Linked DNA regions of Homo sapiens: all the other regions are linked to region 3. The links come from fine-mapping of genetic effects on gene expression. A gene starts in region 3. Each other region holds a variant in brackets. All regions are shown on one strand. Distances are from middle to middle. Region 1 overlaps SPRED2 (sprouty related EVH1 domain containing 2). Region 2 overlaps SPRED2 (sprouty related EVH1 domain containing 2). Region 3 holds the start of SPRED2 (sprouty related EVH1 domain containing 2).

Evidence for each region. PIP is the estimated chance that this variant, and not a neighbour inherited with it, causes the effect.
Region 1: its variant is fine-mapped to the expression of SPRED2 in lymphoblastoid cells (GENCORD, PIP 0.95).
Region 2: its variant is fine-mapped to the expression of SPRED2 in anterior cingulate cortex (GTEx, PIP above 0.99).

Annotation. Positions count from the first base shown.
Region 1 is chr2:65,318,655-65,325,639 of GRCh38, forward strand. All of the region lies in intron 4 of SPRED2 (sprouty related EVH1 domain containing 2), which reads right to left. Among named protein-coding and RNA genes, the nearest start is that of ACTR2, 94 kb to the left of the region's middle. RefSeq lists an enhancer at 4,835-4,924. The variant A/T (reference allele first, on the strand shown) is at 3,638.
Region 2 is chr2:65,403,525-65,410,509 of GRCh38, forward strand. All of the region lies in intron 1 of SPRED2 (sprouty related EVH1 domain containing 2), which reads right to left. Among named protein-coding and RNA genes, the nearest start is that of SPRED2, 26 kb to the right of the region's middle. RefSeq lists an enhancer at 3,416-3,465. The variant A/G (reference allele first, on the strand shown) is at 3,363.
Region 3 is chr2:65,428,917-65,435,901 of GRCh38, forward strand. SPRED2 (sprouty related EVH1 domain containing 2) reads right to left here and starts at 3,683. Exons shown (of 6, transcript NM_181784.3): 1 at 3,046-3,683. The coding sequence starts at 3,071. RefSeq lists silencers at 2,026-2,535, 2,566-2,615, 3,386-3,585, 6,794-6,985.

The sequences.
Region 1 (6,985 bases), 110 kb before region 3:
TATATATATTTTTAAATGTATTTATTTATGTATTTGGGACAGGATTTTGCTTTGTCACCCAAGCTGGAGTGCCGTGGCATGAACACAGCTCAAGTGATCCCCCTGCTTCAGCCTCCTGAGTAGCCGGGACAATAGGTGTGCACCACCACCCCTGGCTAATTTTTGTATTTTTTGTAGAGACGGGGGTCTTGCCAAGTTGCCCAGGCTGGTCTTGAACTCCTGGGCTCAAGTGATCCTCCTGCTTTGGCCTCCCAATATGCTGGGATTACTGCCATGAGCCACCATACCCTGACTTATCTATCACTTTACATGTTTTTGTTAGCTATCATAAATCATTTTAGGGACAAGGGCAAAACAAATAGACTTACAAAAGTTCTTTTTATCCTCCTCTCATTTATAAAGTAGTACATACTTAGAAAAAAAGCACTACAAGAATTTAGGAAAAACACACCCATATTTCCATTATGCAACATAAGCATTGTTAGTTTTTACACCTTGGTCCACATGTGCAGCATCCCTCTGGAGACCCAACCCTCCTGGATGTTTCTCTACTTGGGTTTGGTCTATGCCATGCATGGCTGATGCCTGCTTCTGATCCCCCAAGCCATGGTGACTAATTTCAATATGAACACACGGTGCTCTCCGAAGCAATATAGAGAGACTTTTGACAGAGCGGTCAGAAAAGCAGCTGTCTCCATTTCTGTAATCAAGATCTAAGGGTCCTATAAGCCTTGAATCCTGGCACGGGTGTGGGGAAAGGACTTGTCTGAGGATGGGAGCAAGAGAAGCCACCCTTAGTCCCTTTGAGCTGCTGGATCCAGCCAAGCCTGAATCCTGACCACTCGAGGATGTCCCAATGATGACACCAATTCTCTTTTGTGACTTAAGCCAGAATACACTGGGTTTGTCACTTGGGTGCACTTTCCCTTCACTATGGATTCCTTCCAAAGCAGTCCCACAGGCACCACACTCCTGGCTTCTCTCTACCCCTTACTCCTCCCCAGGTTCCCTCCTCTTCCTCACAAACAACTCTTCTTGGTGTCATATGTGTGAGTGCTTATGGTGTGCCAGGCCCTGAGCTACTTGTGGACACGGTTCCTCAGCATGGCCAGCAGGTCACAGGTAAAACACTATCTCCATGTCACACACTGGCACTAAGGGACTCTGAGAGATGGTGAATCCAGGCCATGGCAGCACAGTCACTGGCAGAGCTGGGACTGAAATGCAGCCTCCCTGACCACAAAGCCCAGGGAGATTTCTAATAGGCCCCACACACTGCTGCCTCTCACAGCCAGGTAAGTCCACTTCCAGCTCCTATGCTAAGAGGTATTTTGTTGAGATTAACACAAAACACAACTTCTCCAAGTCACAAGGTACACCCTGCTGTATACAAACCCAGGAGATGAGGAGATGATGTCTCACAGTACAAAGGTTACTACAGATCTCAATAAATACCTCTCAAATGAGTAATCAGGGCCTTTCAGTGTGATTCAAATCTCAAGAGTTAAATTCTTATCCAACAGCCACGTTACAGTCATCTATTAGGTTAGAAGTTAGCCTTGTGTTGAACATTGTAATAAGCTCTCAGTACTTAGTTCTCAGAAGCCCATTTAACACACCACGGTCACCACTGTGTTAGTCATCTGTTCACCCTAACTCAGCCTATTTTCTGTGACCCACTTTTGGGTTAACAATGTGTAGAAAGTCCTTCTGAGAAATGAGGCACATCCGGCTTTTCCTAGGACTCATTAGTCGATCAGAAATGCTACCTTCCGATATTCCCATCCCACCTCCCCAGCCCTCTCTCCCTGCACAGTCCAGTGCAAAGCTCCCCAGACATTTGTCAGAGGATGTGAGACTGAGAAAGGCCTTATCTGATGACGAATTTCTACAGTGAAGCAAGAAGGCCAGAAGACCTCGAGAGGCATGTCCACAGTCTACTGCCTCCTGAGGGCAGAGCTGAGGTTGCGTCCTAGCCGAGCCTGCAGTCTTCCAGGCCCAGCTGTTCAGGGTTGTCTGAACTCCCAGAAGATTCCATTGGAAGCCAAGGCTATTTCAGATGGATACTAACAGATGATTCTTACAAAGCAGCTAGTGTGACCTACAAACAAAAGGAATGTACTACCAGGGCATCTCCAAGAAAGGCAAAGGGGAAAAAAAATCTCCTTTTACCCTCATGCACCTCTGAACTGGCTCTCCTATAACTCTGCCCTGGTTTCCGTGGGCTGCAGAAAAGCAGCCCACCTGAGGTATGCACATACCTAATACACAAGCAAGATTCTTAAACATCTCTCTGTTATTTCTGTGCACAAGCTACTGACACCTACCAACCTACCAATCTGAAAGCTGTCACCTTCAATGAAAAAGTTGGCAATCACATGCTCCCAACTGTATCTACACTCCCCTTGCTCTCCAGTGGGGGTCTAAGAACTGTTAGGGCTTTGAAGAACAAAAGCAGAGGTCCCCTGTGACTACTCTGTGCTCGGGGACTTCAGGCTCCTAGAAGGCATGACTGCAGCATCCTGAGAGAGCAGGTCAGAGTGGGCGTTTAATGTCTCCTGCTGTGGACACTGAGGCTGGCATTGCCATCTGGCCCCAGCTGACACTGGGAGGTCTTGTGCACTATGATGCAGGGAGCACAGCCCTTGCCACCTGCAAATGTACCCTCTAAAAACACTCTTGCCTTTGGGTTTGACTCTGACTCAATGTCAATGCCTGTTGCTAAAAAGATGTCCAGCTGGGTGCAGCTGCTCATGCCTGTAATCCCAGCGCTTTGGGAGGCTGAGGTAGGAGGATCGCTTGAAGTCAAGAGTTCGAGACCAGCCTGGGCAACAAATCAAGACCCTGTCTAAAAAAAAAAAAAAAAAAAAAAAAAAGATGTCCAATTAAGAAGTGTGCAACCTAATATGAGGCACTGAACAACAGAAACGAGGGGAGTATTACAATGCTAAAAACAACAGGGTCTCAGCTCAGGCAGATTAGATTTGAATCATTCTCTGCTAATTATAAGATGATTTTGGTCAAGTTAATCTCTAACTCCAGTGTTTACATCTGTAAAATTGGGCCAAAATCTTCCTTGGGGTTATGGCAAAAATAAAATGGGATTTAAAATTTCTATTTTGCTATACATTTTTTTGAGACAGAGCCTTGATCTGTCACCCAGGCTGGAGTGCAGCGGCGGAATCTCAGCTCACTGCAACCTCCGCCTCCTGGGTTCAAGCGATTCTCATGCCTCAGCCTCCCGAGTGGCTGGGATTACAAGCACGTGCCAACACGTTTGGCTAATTTTTTGATTTTTTTAGTAGAGATGGGGTTTCACCAGGTTGCCCAGGCTGGTCTCCAACTCCTGAGCTCAGGCAATCTGCCCACCTTGTCCTCCTAAAGTGCCAGGATTACAGGGATGAGCTACCACGCCTGGCCTAAAAATTTCTATTTTAAACTGTGACTGCTGGTATATGAAAGTTACTGATTCTGTATGTTGATCCTGTATCTGGTTGTTTTGCTTAGCTCCCTTATGAAACTAGATTTTTCTAAGTAAATCATTTTGCTCACAAAAGATAGTTTGGTCTCCTTTCCTCTCTCTCTCTCTCTCTCTCTCTCTCTCTCTCTCTCTCTCTATATATATATATATATATAT[A/T]TATTTTTTTTTTTTTTTTTGAGACGGAGTCTTGCTCCGTTGCCCAGGCTGGAGTGCAGTGGCACGATCTCGGCTCACTGTAAGCTCTGCCTCCTAGGTTCACGCCGTTCTCCTGCCTCAGCCTCCCAAGTAGCTGGGACTATAGGCACTTGCCACCACACCCGGCTAATACTTCGTATTTTTAGTAGAGATGGGGTTTCACCTTGTTAGCCAGGATGGTCTCAATCTCCTGACCTCGTTATCCACCTGCCTTGGCCTCCCAAAGTGCTGGGATTACAGGCGTGAGCCACCGTGCCCGGCCTCCTTTCCAATATTTATACCATCTTCTTCTTACCTCATTGCATCTTTTGCCAGGGCTTCCAACATGACATGGAAAAACAGAGGGGACAGTGTCCTGCTTGTCTTGAACCTGACTTTGATAGAATTACTTCTAATGAATTTCTATTAGATATAATATTTCTAGGTAATTGGAGTGATTATAAAGTTCCAAAAGTTTCCTTCTATTCTAGATTGCTAAGGATTTTCACCAGATATTAGATGTTATTAGATGATTTTTCTGTCTACTGAGATGATTACAAAATCTTTCACCTTTATTTTATTAATATGTGAATTAAACAGCTTTTCCAACATAAACCTTCTTTGCATTCCTCAGATACATTCTACCGGTCTTTCACTAAATATGCCTTACTAATATGTGATGTGATTTATTTATTTATTTTTTGAGACAGAGTCTCGCTCTGTCGCCCAGGCTGGAGTGCAGTGGCACAATTTTGGCTCACCGCAACCTCCGCCTCCTGGGTTCAAGCGATTCTTATGCCTCAGCCTCCTGAGTAGCTGGACCACAGGCACGTGCCACCACACCTGGCTAATTTTTTATATTTTTAGTAGAGACAGGGTTTCGCCATGTTGGCCAGGCTGGTCTCCAACTCCTGACCTCAGGTGATCCGCCCACCTCAGCCTCCCAAAGTGCTGGGATTACAGGCATGAGCCACTGCACCTGGCCCACTGTCAAATTTTTCTATGGTAACTATAAAAAAACCACATACTTTGAGTAGCAAATAACAAGCTCTGTGTGACCTGGTTTCTAAAGCCCTCTAACAGGGCAGTGAGCTGAGACAAGCCTTTGATGAGGAAGAACCCAGAAAGGAGAGAGTAAGAAAAGAGAAGGGAAGGGGGTGAAAGCAGGTGTCAGAGGGTACAGAAATGAAAGTGGGCACTGCCAACATTTAAAAAAACAAGAAACAGGGACAGGGCTGGCCTGTCCAAATCCTCTATGGTAGTAAAAAAAAAAAAATCCATCCCTGGCCAGGCGCGGTGACTCACGCCTGTAATCTCAGCACTTTGGGAGGCTGAGGCGGGCAGATCACGAGGTCAGGAGATCGAGACCATTCTGGCTAACACGGTGAGACCCCGTCTCTACTAAAAATACAAAAAATTAGCTGGGCGTGGTGGCAGGAACCTGTAGTCCCAGCTACTCGGGAGGCTGAGGCAGGAGAATGGCGTGAACGTGGGAGGAAGAGGTTGCAGTGAGCCGAGATCGCGCCACTGCACTCCAGCCTGGGCGACAGAGCAAGACTCCGTCTCAAAAAAATCCATCCCTTCCCAGAAGGGTTTCTGGGTTTGGGTTGGGTGCTTTGCGGGATGTGGGCTCAGACACAGAAAGTGACCATGTTGTTGGGGGAGATGCCACGTGGCACGGGAAGAGGCAAGGCCAGGTGAGCAGTCCTCAAGCACCAGGCCTCAGAGCACTGGTCAGAGTCAGGCAGCTTCCCAGAGGGGTGTGTCTGAGATGGGTCATAGCATTCTAGATGGGTAGACCAGAGGAAGAAAAGGGGGCTCAAGTTTATCAGTGAACATCTGATCAACATCTCCAAAAAAAGAGCAGGCTTCCAGTTGCCAGATTCTATAGACACAGGCTGTACTTATTTTGAGAATTCAGATATTTCCCATAACTCTAGAGTTTGATGACAAATGAGAGCAACTCCATGGAGCTTCAAAACTTGAGACAGAATTTTAAAAAATAATAATGGACCTTAATGTTATGATGGCTTGACAATCAATCAAAATCTGAGTGCAAAAGACACTGGGCTGAAACTGCCTGGGCTAATGGACTGGCAGTTTCCCCAAGGTCAATGCTGTCTGGTTTGGGTGGGAATCAGCCTGAATGGAGAAACGAGACTAACAGGGCAACACCTCAGGTTAAACCTGAGCCAGCTCCCTCCTGCTGTATGAGCCTTTTTTGTACAATATGATCTCTTGTTCTTGGAAGCTTGGCTACTCTTCCCTCTCTTATGGAGGGACCTTGAGTTTACTGGGAAATTCATAAAGAAGCAAGTGCAGCAGCTCACACGCCCTGGGTCCAAGAATGAACCTTCTTCATGTAGAAGGCCACCTCTCTGACCAAGGGAAGCTCAAGGAGGGAGGGAAGGAACCACCAGGCCAGACGAGCTGAGGAGACAGGTTGCTTAAATTGTCCATTCTGGGATGGAATCCTGGCTGCTGACCCAGGACTTTTTGGGGGCACTTTCTGTGTCTTCAGGACGAGCCGGACAGATTTCAACGTTCACATTTCGCAGGTCTTTTCAGTACTATGCGCATCCCTTCAAGTCCTCTAGGTTTTCCTGCTAAACCTTTGCTTTCTAAAAGAGGGTAGGGGCAGAGGACAAGGAGGCAACAGTTGGCAAAAAGTGCTATGGGAAAGAAAAGGTGTGCCTGGGCTGTTTTCTCAAGGACACTTGGAATTATTATCAAGGGGCACCTGGTTCACAGCCTTCTCAAGTAGGATGCTCCCATCCAGTACATGGGTGAGACTATTAGAGGGCTGGCAATGTGTAATTTCTTCCTTCTTCTTAGGGAGGGAGATAAAAGGGACAAACCCCTCCTCTCAAGAGGCAAGGAAACAAGTACAGCCACTTCATCATCCTCATGTTCCCAGGAACACAAGGGCTGACTGCAGAAATCACAATGTGCAAAGAGCCAAGCCCTCTCTGACCAGCCCATTTGGGAGATCAGTGGGCCTACGTGTTTTGAATAGGGCCATAGAAAACAATGTTAAAGAAACTGCTTAAGGAGCTAGACCACATCATTCAGGAATCATGTAGCACTGCTAAGCAAAAATAGCACTATACAGGGAGATTCGAAAACCTCAATTTCAGGCCAGGCCAGATATCTTGGACAAGTTGTTTAACTTTTGGGGGCCTCAGTTTTCTCATGTGTAAAATGAGGGAGTTGAACTAGATGATTTCCAAGGTCTGTTTGAGCCCTAACAATTTCATGTGCAATGCCTCTCACCTGCTCCTAAGAACATTACAGGTTAGAGGAGTTGGACTAAGCCCGTTGCTTAGTTGA
Region 2 (6,985 bases), 25 kb before region 3:
CTAAAATGCTGGGATTACATGCGTGAGCCACTACGCCCATCTGGGATAGACATTTTTACGACACAAAGAAATCCTCAAAATACTAAAGACTAATTGAAATCGCATTAGTGGAAATGTAGTCCAAGGAGTAGCATCATGGGCAGCACCCAAAAGCTGAAGAAAAAAGCACCATCTCAGGCCCCACCCCAGGCCTGCTGAATGGGAACTTGCAACTTAGCAGGAAGACCCCACGTGACTCACATGCATATCAAAGCACTGGTCTGAAAGGCCTAGACCTCAGGTGCTTGGTACTGCCTGTTCTGAGCCATAATTAGGTGAATATCATGCTCAAAATTTCATATACAACACTCTACTCCAGAAGCAGCAGGAGAATCAGTTTCCTAAAAAGGAACATTTGTGGCCAGGTGTGGTGGCTCACTCCTGTAATCCCAGTACTTTGGGAGGCCGAGGCAGGTGGATCACCTTAGGTCAGGAGTTAGAGACCAGCCTGGCTAACATGGTGAAACCCCGTCTCTACTAAAAATACAAAAACTAGCTGGGCATGGTGGCGGATGCCTGTAGTCCCAGCTACTCAGGAGGCTGAGGCAGGAGAACTCTTGAACGCCCAGGAGACGGAGATTGCAGTAAGCCGAGATCACGCCACTGCACTCCAGCCTGGGCAACAGAGTGAGACTCCGTCTCAAAAAAAAAAAAAGAAAGAAAGAAAAAGAAGAAACATTTGTGCTAGTAATGTTCTCCTTAATTGTTTTAAGAATTATGTGTAGGCAGGCAACCATGTTAAATAAAGGGAAAGTCTGTAATCAAATATACTCACAAAGTTAACCATATATATTACATGTATTAGTGAACTGCATGGAAACTAGATATAAGCGCAAGTATATACTACTTGTCTATGCCAAACCAAGTTGTTTCAAAATCTCCTCTCATCTCTTTATTGGATGGCTAAACAGTCTCAGTAATGAGTTTCTCAGGGAGTTTTCTCTAGGAGCACATAATTTAATGCAGATATTCATTCATACTATACCCTATTCATTCATTCAGCAGATACTTCTTGAGCCTCTATTATGCCAGGCACTGAAGACAGCAATGAGTAAAACAGGCAGACACCTTGCCTCCTGTGCAGAGAGAGGGGACCTGGGGTCCCCAGGAGCTGGAGTGTCAACAGACCCCCAACTTTGGGACACAAGATCAAAGAGAAGCCACCTAGCGAGCAAACAGGACTGGCTGTAGGTCTATAAAAAACACGTGCCTGTTTCTTACAAATGAGGGCACAGCCCAGTTATCCATGTACTACCTCCCCAGCATGAACAGACCACCTTTCCCTTCTGCCAAACAAACACCTCCCCCAACAACAGCACACCCCTGGGCCCTTTTATGATCTAACCTCACTTAGCTCCAGGCACCTGCTCCCTAACAGGCCTTTAATTCCTCACTTTCCCTCCTGCCTTGTGACTACATCTGGCAAGGTGTTTTTCTTCTGTCACACGTTATAAACACGTTGTAGAGATACTATAAACAATAATTATGACAATAATGACAATTTGCTAATATTTACCGTGTGCTTTTCTTATGTGCCAAGCATTAGCTCATCTAAATGTATATACATCAGCCCATTTTCCAGGAGAGAAAATTAAGGCTTAGCGTTTATGTCACTACCCTACGTCTCATGACCAACAAGTGGCAGAATCAGGACTTAATGACCTTCTTATGGTACTTTCCACCTTGGTGGAGAAGAGCATGGAGATGACATAGTCATTGAGGTGATATATAGTGATAGTGATAGAGGAAGTCGTTATCCAGGGAGTTACTGAAATGTCCTTTTCAACCTTCCTTTTATCATTCAAATAGCAGTTAACAAGGACAAATTGCTGCAAATCATCCTCGATTTTCCCTCTTGCTTGGATCTTATTTTATTCTGATCCCAAATATTCCTAGCTAACATGTTTAAGGCTGAGTCTTTTCCCCCTCTCATCACACACTCATTACAAATGCAAATAACTGTGAATGACTGTCCAAACGAGCAGGACAAAACTCCCCCAATTAAGTCCAATACACACACCTGAACTTACTGGGGCTTCAACGCCCCCAGAAGATTAATCAGCACCATGGGGCTCCTGAGAACACAAAGGCTATTTTGTGGGAGTGATACGGCACTGCAATCCTCTTTTCTGTGATTACACCTCATTTTATAACAATGTTCAGACATTTGGTTTGAGCAAGTATAGTAATTACATTTCTCACTTTGAACTAATTTAAGCAGCTACATCTGAGCTCCTCCACAAGTCCTCAGGCTTACCAGCCCTTCTCCTCCCACCCAGAGCACTCCTATTTGAGAAGACCCGGACTTCTTTGCTAAGTGACTGTTCCCACTTTCTGTCAGGCACTCCATAATTCAAACCTATTTCTCCAAGCTGACCCTCTTGCAATGGGCAGAACACCCCCGCACTTTCTTCCTGGCACTCATTTGGAGGAGCCCTGTAGAAAAACAACCAGGCAACCAGACTCTCCCACTATCCAACTGTGTGACCTGGGTTTAACTCCCCAGGCCTCAGAGTCCTCATCTGTTAAATGGTGCTCCTGGCCTCTATGTTGGTGATGACACTTCTTTGGGCTGAGAGTGCTACCATGAGATTATAAAAGCGAACCACCCCACGGTGGCAGGTCCTTCAGAGCCACAAAGACCCTGCTGGAGGCAGAAAATTCTGCTAAATGTGCCCTGCAAAGAAAATGCTGAGAAGCCAGGATTTCTTAATACTTGACACCCAAACTTACCATCCACCAACTTTCCAATCCTCCCACCCCATTCTTATAATTTACTCTTTATAGAGGTCAAGAATAAATGGAAATGTTAACAGAGAGCAACACCAACCCTTCCCCCCAAATCAAAGATCCTGGTTTTGCTAGGCAGGACCCAATATTTTATCCACTCATGTCTGTGCACACAAGTTTGTTTGTAAGACTGCAAGCTTTTAGAAAGGCAGTGACAAGGAGCCTCACTAGTTGTAGAAATAAAGTTGGTCATTATACTCTTCGTGCACCACATGTGAGATGTCCTGACATTCCACCTCTGGGGGAGGTTTTGGGAAGTAGGGGTGGAAATGGAAGGTTGGGGGCAGAAAGCAACTCACACTTCACTTTCCTTCTGCTTAGCACATCAGCCCACCTTGCTGTACACAAGAGGCAGGCTAAAAATAGTAACATCGTTTTCCTTTCCACCCTTGCAGGAAGCTAACCTGTTCCACCAGAATGGCCTGATAAAGGCAGCCGCACTTCCTTAGAGATAAAATCCACCTTTCCTGAGAGCTCAGCCTTGAGAGTGAGGCAGGGCCCTCCATCAAGCTGCCTGCCTTGGAGGCTCAGGC[A/G]GGGCTCTGGTCCAAGTTACTGGACAGTGGAAAGTTTAGTCTCTCTTTTTTTTTTTTTTTGAGACGGAGTCTCGCTCTGTCGCCCAGGCTGGAGTGCAGTGGTGCCATCTCGGCTCACTGCAAGCTCCACCTCCTGGGTTCACGCCATTCTCCTGCCTCAGCTCCTGAGTAGCTGGGACTACAGGCACCCACCACCATGCCCGGCTAATTTTTTGTATTTTTAGTAGAGATGGGGTTTCACCATGTTAGCCAGGATGGTCTCGATCTCCTGACCCCATGATCTGCCCGCCTTGGCCTCCCAAAGTGCTGGAATTACAGGTGTGAGCCATAGTCTCTTTCTCAAATGGGGCGCTGGCTCCTTTTTTTTTTTTTGCTAAAAGTCCCATGACAGAAGGATTCTGACTTCACAGCTAATGTGAACTGACAATGAAGACTCCCAAACCACAATAACTTAACAGGAAACTGAGGTGGCTGCAGGTGTGTGTGTGTGCGTGTGTTGTGTATTGGGGGGCATTTTGGGGGGCATTTTGATTGTCTTCATCAAGTCAAGATTCAGCACGAGGGGGTTCTAATCTATTGCTGTGTAGCCATGAGAGCTGCAATCAAGAAGGTAGGTGCATGGCATGCAAACTTCCTCTCTGCAGGGGGTGGGAAGTGCTGCCAACTTAAAGCTTATCTCATTCTGAGTCTTCATGTCAATGACTGTCATGCACATCCCTGTTCACATGCCTTGGAAATCTAGGTTTGGGTGTCTGGTTTGGTTAAACCAAAAGATCAACTCTCCTCAGCTGGATCACTTGTCCTTTCACCCGTGGAGACGCGGTATCCACTCATGCCTCCGTGCACACAGGTAGACAGAAAAGGGTGGGAAAGGTGGAGCACAGGGAACCTCCCCATAACTCCAACTGGAGGACAGTTCTCTCTTCCACTCTTGGGAGTGTCTTAAAATACTAACATGACCGAGTGCAAAGCTCTAGCTATATTTTTACTTCTCAGAACAAACAACAACAAAATATCAAAAGCTGGGCAAGGGAGCCAGAGGTCTAAAGGGGCAAGAAGAAAGAATGTTATCAAAACGATTATGACATGGTCCCTGTGTAGAGAGGCATTCCCTAATAGGCCACCAACCCAGGCTATCTTCCTTTTACCCATCAGTCTGATTTCAGCTCCTCATAAAACCAGTCTCTTGAGCTTCTCTCCTTGCCTGCTGGTTCCATCTTCTTAAGATCTTATCAGAGGAGCAAGATCCTTCCCTTCTGCCCAGACCTTGGGTCCTTTCAACAAAGCTTTAGGCTGAAACTTCTTTCCAGACACCAGTAATGATCACCCGGCATGTATTAGGCACCTCAAACATGTCAGACACTGCTGCGGACACTTTCATGTGCTACATGTAATTTAATCCTCACAAGCCTCATACTATGAGTCCTATTTGACAGACAAGAAAGCTAAAGTTTGGGAAGATAAATATGCAGTATAAGGTAGAGTCAGAATTCAAAATCAGCTCCCCTGACTTTGAGGCAGAAGCTGTTTTTATGATGCCACAGATTCCTGTAGGAATTCCTTGTATCCCTTCTTCTCTGAATTGATCATAGAGCTCCAGGCAAATTGCTCGGACCAGAACCAGAGCCCCCTTCCAATGTCTGTATGTATAATCCCAGTCGCCAGCCACAGGAATTAGTCAGTTACATAAGGGGACTTTTGAAGTTCTTTTTTTTTTTTTTGAGACGGAGTCTCACTCTGTCACCTAGGCTGGAGTGCAGTGGCGCGATCTGCAACCTCTGCCTTCTGGGATCAAGCAATTCTTCTGCCTCAGCCTCCTGAGTAGCTGGGACAATAGTCACGTGCCACCACACCCAGCTAATTTTTGTATTTTTAGTAGAGATGGGGTTCCACTATACTGGCCAGGCTGGTCTTGAACTCCTGACTTTGTGATCCGCCTGCCTTGGCCTCCCAAAGTGCTGGGATTACAAGCGTGAGCCACTGCACCTGGCTCTAAAGTTCTTAATAGCCCATAAATATTGCCCTAATTCTGCCTTTCATCATAACCCTTATATCCTATAGTCCTTAGCCTGTGTGAGACCACAATTACCTGTAGATATCTCAAAAGTCACAGATGTCATTTACAGATCACCTCTTCATCGACCCCAGACCTTTATGCACATAAATCAACTGACTTAATACAACAGCCCAGAAAAGGAAGTATTATGAGCCCTTTTTCTATATTCAAGGACACTGAAGTTTTTGAAAGGTTCAGGTAATTTAACACTGGTCGCACAGCTAATAAGCAGCAAAGGGAAATTCACACCCAGGTCTGTCCTAGTCTAAGAGGTACTGTCTAACACAGTAGCAGCCAGCAGCCACAAGTGGCACTGAGCACATGAAAATGGAGATGTGCTCCAATTATAACATACAAGCGGCATTTTGCAGGTGTAGTACAAAAAAAGAATGTGAAATACTTCATTAGCAATTTAAAACATTAACTGTTGAAATGAGAATTTTTAGATACACTAAATAATAGACTAAAATTAATTTCACCTGTTTCTATTTACTTTTTTAACACCCCTATCAGAACATTTAAAATTACATATGTGGCCTATGTTGTATTTCTATTGGACAGCACTAGTCTAAATCCTATGATTTTACCAAGTTCTACTGCCTCCCTATAATAACACAGCTTTTAGCAATTTACATCTCATGCACTATTTAAAAATGAATAAAGCCACCTTGACATCCTCACTTCTAGTAACAAGAATTTTGTTTCCTGGCAAGACTGATTTGAGTGCTAATAAAACTCCAGTTTCCTGCAAAAAAAAAAAAAAAAAAAAAAGAATTTTGTGTTCTGATGAAGACTTTCAAGAGAAATTTTAGGCTGGGCATGGTGGCTCACGCCTGTAATCCTAGCACTTTGGGAGGCCAAGGCGGGCGGATCACGAGGTCAGGAGATCAAGACCATCCTGGCCAATATGGTGAAACCCTCTACTAAAAATACAAAAATTATCCAGGTGTGGTGGCGCGTGCCTGTAGTCCCAGCTACTTGGGAGGCTGAGGCAGGAGAATCGCTTGAACCAGGGAGGTGGAGGTTGCAGTGAGCCAAGATTGCACCACTGTACTCCAACTTGGTAACAGAGTGAGACTCTGCCTCGGAAAAAAAAAAAAAAAAGAATAATTTTAAATGCAAAAAAAAAGTATAACATCTTGTGCAAGGCCAGGCGTAATGGCTCACGCCTGTAATACCTATGCTTTGGGAGGCTGAGGCAGGAGGATAACTTGAGCCCAGGAGTTCGAGGCTGCAGTGAGCTTTGATCATGCCACTGCACTGCAGCCTGGATGATGCAGTGAGACCTTGTCTCTTAACTGAAAAGAAAACAAACAAACAAAAATCCTTCATGTGCAGGTGTCAAATGATCTGCAAGCAGCCTACACAGGGGTGTCTCTCTCGCTCTCTCTCTGTCTCTCTCCTGCCCATGCTGGGTTCTTTAGCATCGTTCATGGCATCTGATTATACCTCTCAGGCAGAATCTCCTTTTAAAATCACTATTTATACTCGTCATCCCAGTTCTTCCACTCACTAGGTAAAAATGGTTCCCAACTGGCCTGGCATGGTGACTCAGGCCTGTAATCCC
Region 3 (6,985 bases):
TTTGCTGATGCTCTTCGCTTCTTAAATTATATTTTTAAAAGTCTGTATAATTGTAAATTTTAACATGCATTTTTATGTGGAGGGGGGACGAAAGAGAATGGTCAGTGTATTTTCTATATGGAAGATATCTTTTGGGACCATTATCAACAAGAGCAAAGAAACTTTCCTGAATTACCATATATTAGAAGAATTTTAAATTGACATGGAAAACAACATTAGAAAACAAAACATTATTTTTTTAAATTAAGCACAATTTTACCATTTGCAAGATTCTGATTTACTGCATTCTGATGCTAAATGAAACAGATATTATCTGGACCATTCAACAAAACCTTTACTACATGTAGACTATCAAGTCTATTTTACCTAAAGTACAAATATATCTTTCCTAGGTCTCCAGTTTGATGCCACCAGTTCTCTTAAGTAGCAAACCCTGCCTGGTTCCAAAGGTATCTGAGAGACCTCAAACATAAAATCATTACAAGAAAAAAACAGATCAAATTCACCCAAAGTAGGAATCTAGCAAAAATCTAACCAAATATGGCTACCTTAATCAAACAATAATTTTAGCTCTAGACTTAAAGACAGTGGCAGCAAACAACAATAAAACAACAAAAAAGCAATCACAGCAAGCTCTGTAATTCAGAGAGAAAAACCTTACTGTCACTAACATTTAAAAGGAATTTTTCAGATGCGTCATTACACAGGTACGTTGAACAAAATAATAGACAGTGGCTACCATGGCAGTTTACAGCCCACGAAGTCGCTTTCTTCTCAGGCATTTTAAGTTTTGAGCCAAGGTCATCACATTAAAAATAACCCCTATAAGCCCATTTCTTCAGTGGCTAAGGTGCCAAGGCTTTCTCAGTCTCTAAGTGAAACTAGAACTCCTCAAATATCTATCCTCTCAACTGGACTCGTGACAGCAGTGGAGGCTACGGCTTCATGCTGAACTTGCTCTGAGAGCCTGAAATGGAGCTATTCTTTCCTCGCTGGTGATCCCACTCGAAATCCTTCTGCTTTGGATAGCAGATGGAGAAAGATGCAAGGCTGACAAGCTGCCACAAAAAGAGCCAGGTCAGGCCTGTATTCCCAAGGGGTGGAGCCAAGGTAGAGTGGTCAAACCTCTCCAAGAATCTGCAAGGCCAGAGCACAGCAACCAGCCTCACTGCTACTACTGCTACTCTGTGTGCAGGTACAATCGAGGGCCCATAAAAATATTGATTTATTGGTCACGTTCAAAAGGCAGCAAGGCCCAGCAGCATATTCCTTCTCTGTATTTCAGCCCTAAAAGCGCAACTTTTTTTCATTTTACCATTTTAAGATGCTATATACGAAGACAAAGCAAAACGTCTGAAATAGAAACACCAGCAGATGCGGTGGGACGTCTGCGACAGGCACAGCAGCAGGGATCCTCTCCTGTGACGGCTGTCTGGAAGATCAGGGGTTACTGCAGTCAAAGTTCCCTGGGGACTCACAGGAAGGAAACTGAAATTCCCTTTCCCAAACACCAGCCCCACTCCCGCCCGGACTGGCAACAGCAGACGCCAAAGGATAAAGGGGGTATATTTAATAAAGTGAGTAGATTTCCTAGAGTAGGGCACAGCACTGTCACCTGCTGCAAGAGACAAGCCTCCCAGTCGCCCAGCCCTGAGTCACTTCCCCTCCCAGCACTCTTGAGGCTCAATGCCTGCGGGGGGCAAAAGACCTGGGGCCTCCGGAGCACGCCTTCCGAAGCCCACACTCCCCTGCAAAGACGCGCGCGGGGCCTCCCTCCAGGGCGCGTCCCCGCGGCTGCCAACCAGCTCTTTGCGCCCAAGCCCGCGCCGCCGCTACCTTGGCTAATGGCAGCACTGAATGAAAGGAACGGATGCAGGCTCCGGATTTATGAATGTGCAGGGGAGGAGGGGAGGGATATCATGTGACAATAAAGGAGCGCGTCTTATTCACAAAAAAAAAAAAGTGGCTGGTGGCGGGCACAGCCACTGAGCAGCAGCGGCGGCCGCCGCGCGGTGACCGCTCAAACCCCAGGCATAAGACTTGAGGCGTCGGGCCCCGCGGCCCCGCCCCCGTCGCACCCGAGACTGAAAACGCCTCAGACCAGGGAGGGAAAATGCCAAACTGGACCCCTGGACCGCGAGGCAGGAGGCAGCTGCACCTCCGCCCCGGGCTGGCGACAGTCACGGGTCCCGCGCGGGGCGGCCCAGGATCCCTCCGGCGGAGCGCCCCGAGCATTGTTCCCCTCGGGCCCGCGGGCCAGGCACAAGCCCGTGCACGCGCACCCGCGAGGACACTCACATACACACACACACACGCGCGCCCCCAGCGCGATGCCCCGCACGCCCCCGCCGCACACGCCTCGGTCCGCCCCGAGCCGCCCGACCCCGCAGGACGCGTGTGCCGGCCACAAGCGCGTGCACAGGCACTCACGCGCCGCGGGGCCCCTCGGGCGGCTCCAGCACGCCGGCCCGCGCGGGGACCCTGGCGCACCAGACCCCCGCGCAGCCCGCGCCTGTCCTCCTCTCGCTCCGCCGTGTTTTTTATGAATGAAAATGTGGTATGCAAATGAGAGCGATTCAAGAAAACGAAATGGCGGAGCCTAGGCCCCAGTGGGCTCCGGAGCGGACTGCAGGGCTCGCGGGGCGGCGGGAGTCACAAAGTCACTGTGCAAAAACCCACCAGCCCCGGGAAGCCGGAGTGGGGGTGTCAGGTCTTCCGCTCTAGCCGCCGAGGATTTCGGGGGCGGGGGAGCTGTAAGTCCTCCGAGAGGGAGCGGAGACCGCCGGGAGGTCACCCGCACGCCCTTGGCCCCCGGAGCTGCCACCAGCCCGCCGACCCTAGGCGTGCGCCCGCCAGCCCGCAGCAGTTTTTGCCCTCTCCTCACTTCAACAAGCAGGGAAGCCTCGCGTCCCAACGCCGAAAGGTCAGCGAGTCGCTGCACCCCACGCCAAGTTCACCCAATAAGCGTCCCCGCCCGCATCCTCAGCCCCGGCCCCCACGCTGCCCCTGAGGGGCACCCTCGTCCCACCCCGCGACCAAACTTACTCGTCTGGGTGTGTTTCTTCGGTCATTTTCTTGTTCACCTAGACGCCTGTCCCGCGGCGGGCAGCTTTGCTCCCTTCATCTTCCTGTCCGCTCGCCCCCCTTCTTCACATCTCCGGAGATCGCCTGATTTGGGGAGGGGGGGCGGCTAGAGATGAAGAGGGCGCCGCAGCAGAAGGGGAAGCAGGGCGCGGGATAGGGTTTGGGGGAAGGGGTGCAAAGGCAGGCTGCGCGGGGAGTGAACGCCGCAGCGCCGTGGGGAGAGGCGGGCGGAGGCTCCGGGGGCTCGGGAGCGGGCAGAGGGGGCGAGATTTGGGAAGGGGACGGCGGTGGGGGAGAGCAGGAGAAAAACAAGCGCGCCTCGGAGCGGCAGGGACTGCTGCGAGGAGGAGGAGAGCGCCGGCCGCGGGTGGGGGGGCTCAGTCCGGGGTCGCCCCCGGGGGGCCGGGCCAATCACGGTTCCGGGGAGCGGTCGGCGGCCGGGGGAGGTGCGCCTGGGAGGCGGTGCAGGGCGCCCCGTCCGAGCCCCATCTCTCGACTCCACCGATTTACTCCATATTGGATTCTCACCGCCGCCAACAGGAGGAGGAAGTAGGGCGGAAGCGATGACGTCTTCCCAGCGGCCAGAGGTGGTGGAGTGCAAAAAGCTTCCTACTTGCGACCGAAAAAAAGGGAGAAGAAAAAAAAAAAAACTTTGTCCCGCCTACTGAGCACGCCCCGCTTCCTCTCCCCCTCCCTCCTGGCTTCCACTCCCGGGGGAGCCGCGGAGCCGAGTTGTTTGCTTGCGCCGCGACCGTCTGGCTCCGAATCCTCCTTGATTAGGGCTCCGGGTTTTAGGAAGCCCGAGAGGAGGGAGGAGGCGGGAGCGGAGGACTCGTACACATCTGGCTCCCGTTTTTGCCCCCTCCCTCCTTCCAAACACCAAGATTAAAAATCGGGGGGTTGGGCGGGGGCAGAGATGGGAAACTCAAGGGAGGGGAGGGAGTAAAACAGCTGAAGAGGTGCTCAGGCTCAGAGGCACAACTACCCCCACCGCGGGGTGGGAAGGTAGGGGCGGCGCAGGTGCCAGGGGCTGGCTTCTCCAGCCCAACCCAACCAGAGAGGGGAGGGGGTTCGACTTTGCCAAGGTTCTGAAAGGCAGAGGCTTTTCCGTTTCACGTGAATCTTGTGATTTTTTTTCTTTTTTGTCTCAATAGAGGAATGGATTTTTGTTTTGTTTTGTTTTGAGATGGAGTCTCGCTCTGTCCTCAGGCTGGAGTGCAGTGGCGCGATCTAGGCTCACTGCAACCTCCACCTCCTGGGTTCAAGTGATTCTCCTGCCTCAGCCTCCCGAGTAGCTGCGACTACAGGCGCGCGCCACCACGCCCAGCTAATTTTTGTATTTTTAGTAGGGAGGGGGTTTCATCATGTTGGCCAGGATGGTCTCGATTTCTTGACCTCGTGATCCGCCTGCCTCGGCATCCCAAAGTGCTGGGATTATAGGCATGGGCCACCGCACCCGGCCAAGGAACGGATGTTTTTAAGAATCATTACTCATGCAAAGAAAAAGGTCAACCCAGCACAGCCCAGAAACGTTTGCATTTCCGTAGAAATTATGGAATTTCTCGCGTTAAGAAGCAGCCCCGGCCGGGCGCGGTGGCACACGCCTGTAATCCCAGCACTTTGGAAGGCCGAGGCGGGCAGATCACCTGAGGTCGGGAGTTCGAGACCAGCCTGACCAACATGGTGAAACATCGTCTGTACTAAAAATACAGAATTAGCCGGGCGTGGTGGCGCGTGCCTGTAATCCCAGCTACTCGGGAGCTGAGGCAGGAGAATCGCTTGACCCCAGGAGGTGAAGGTGGCGGTGAGCCAAGATTGTGCCACTGCACCCCAGCCTGGGCAACAAGAGCAAAACTCCATCTCAAAAAAAAAAAAAAAGAAGAAGAAAGAAAGAAAGAAAAAGAAACAAGAGACATAGTCCCTATCCCTTGCTGCTCTCCAAACACAGTAGACTTTTCCATCCTCTTGAATGTCCATGGGACAATCCAGATACGATGTTAACTAAATAGCAACCACTGAACAGGTTAAGAGATTAAATATTTGCCTCAGGCTGGGCGCAGTGGCTCATGCCTGTAATCCCAGCACTTTGGGAGGCTGAGGTGGGCGGATCACCTGAGGTCAGGCGTTTGAGACCAGCCTGGCCAACATGGCAAAACCCTGTCTCTACTAAAAATATAAAAATTAGTTGGGTGTGGTGGTGGGCACCCATAATCCCAGCTACTCAGTAGGCCGAGGCAGGAGAATTGTTTGAACCCAGGAGGAGGAGGCTGCAGTGTACCGAGATTGCACCATTGCACTCCAGCCTGGGCAACAAGAGCAAAACTTTGTCTCTAAATAAATAAATAAATGCCTCAAATTTAGTATTCCTAAAATTTACATACATATAAGAGCCACAAATGCTCCAAAAAGTTTCACCTTGAGTCAGGGATAAACTGGTGGTTTACTCCAGGCTTTGTGCTTATCACAGCCATGATCTCTGTAGACATGGAGTAGGGTTCACGCTGGTGATGTGTGGTGGTGGGGAGGGCATGAACCAGGGGATGGAACAGCTTGGTTCTGGTTTTCTCCTAGCAGTCCTGAGACCCCGAGTGAGTTTCTTTATAAAACAGGAATAACAAGGCCAAGCTTGTCTTTATCAGTTTTTGAGGCCATTGAGAGTTCCTGAGAAAGTACTAAGCAAAGGCAAGATCTCATTGTCTTCCAAATCCTCAGATGGCTAAGGAATCTACCCAAGTCTCACCTTTGGCCATGGTTGCTCTTCTCCCTGGGAGTGCTGAAAGAGATCCCACCCTGTTATTCCTGAACTTCCCAGAACACAGGCACTTACCCATGTCAAAATTATCCACCCTGTGGGCATCTCTTGGGCTCCACCCTCCAGTTTCAAGGTACACAAATGGCAAGGTGGCAGGTGAGGTGATTAATTTCTGCAGGTAGGCCAGCTCTATGAGCAGGTTAAATTGGTGTCATCACCACTCACTCAGCCAGCTCTCTGCTTAATAGCAGCGAACGACTGGCCCAGCCTATGGACCAGGTTGCCAGGGGAACAATGATAAATATTCTGAGGTCCAGAAGTCCCCAAGTCCCCACTGGGATCACCTGGTACCATACTCCAGCTGGGCTATCTCAGGCAGGCCCTTAGGTCCACTGAGCCTTGGGTTCAGTGTCTGTTGGGTCGGAATAGTACCCACAACATAGGGTTGCTGGGAATCTTAAATGGGCTATACAGATTCCTGATAGCCCTTTCCTCTCTCTGGCCAGCTGGTTTACCAAATGCCCCCCTCCACTCTGTCCTTCATGTTCCTTTAAATGAAGCCTGCCAGTTCTCTTCTGTCTTGTTCAACACCCAAAAGGGGCCTTTTGATGGAAACATTACTAGCAGGTCACTTCTTGGTCCTCCCCATCAATTACTGTGGTTGAGGCAAGTCTGACTCCTGCAGCTCCATAGAATAAATGAGGACATTGGGCGAATAACTCAGATATGTCTGTTGATCTGAACATCAAGGTGTTATCAAAGTCCATTGGATTGTTGCTGGAATAGGGGATATCACAGATTTAGGGCTTTAATTGATGTCACTGCTGAAAGAGCTAAGGACCCACATCCCTGTCTCTCCCCACAACCGGCAGAACAGGGGGCTGCGGGAATCTCTGAACACGATCAAATCAATAGTGCTCAGTCAGAGTAGGATCGTAAAGCTTCAAAAGTAATATCGATCTGCTCACAACTTCACGCAAACCCAGCGGGGCCCCCAGCAGGTCCCCCACCTACAGGCTTCTCAGTTCCGAGTCCTGGGCGAGGGAGCACCCCCACCCCGGCCCTTCCCGCGGGCTGCCCGGAAAGTCCGGAGCGCGGAGCCGGAGCGACCCTCCGCGGCCGGGGACGGGCATGCTCAGTAGCCCCGCA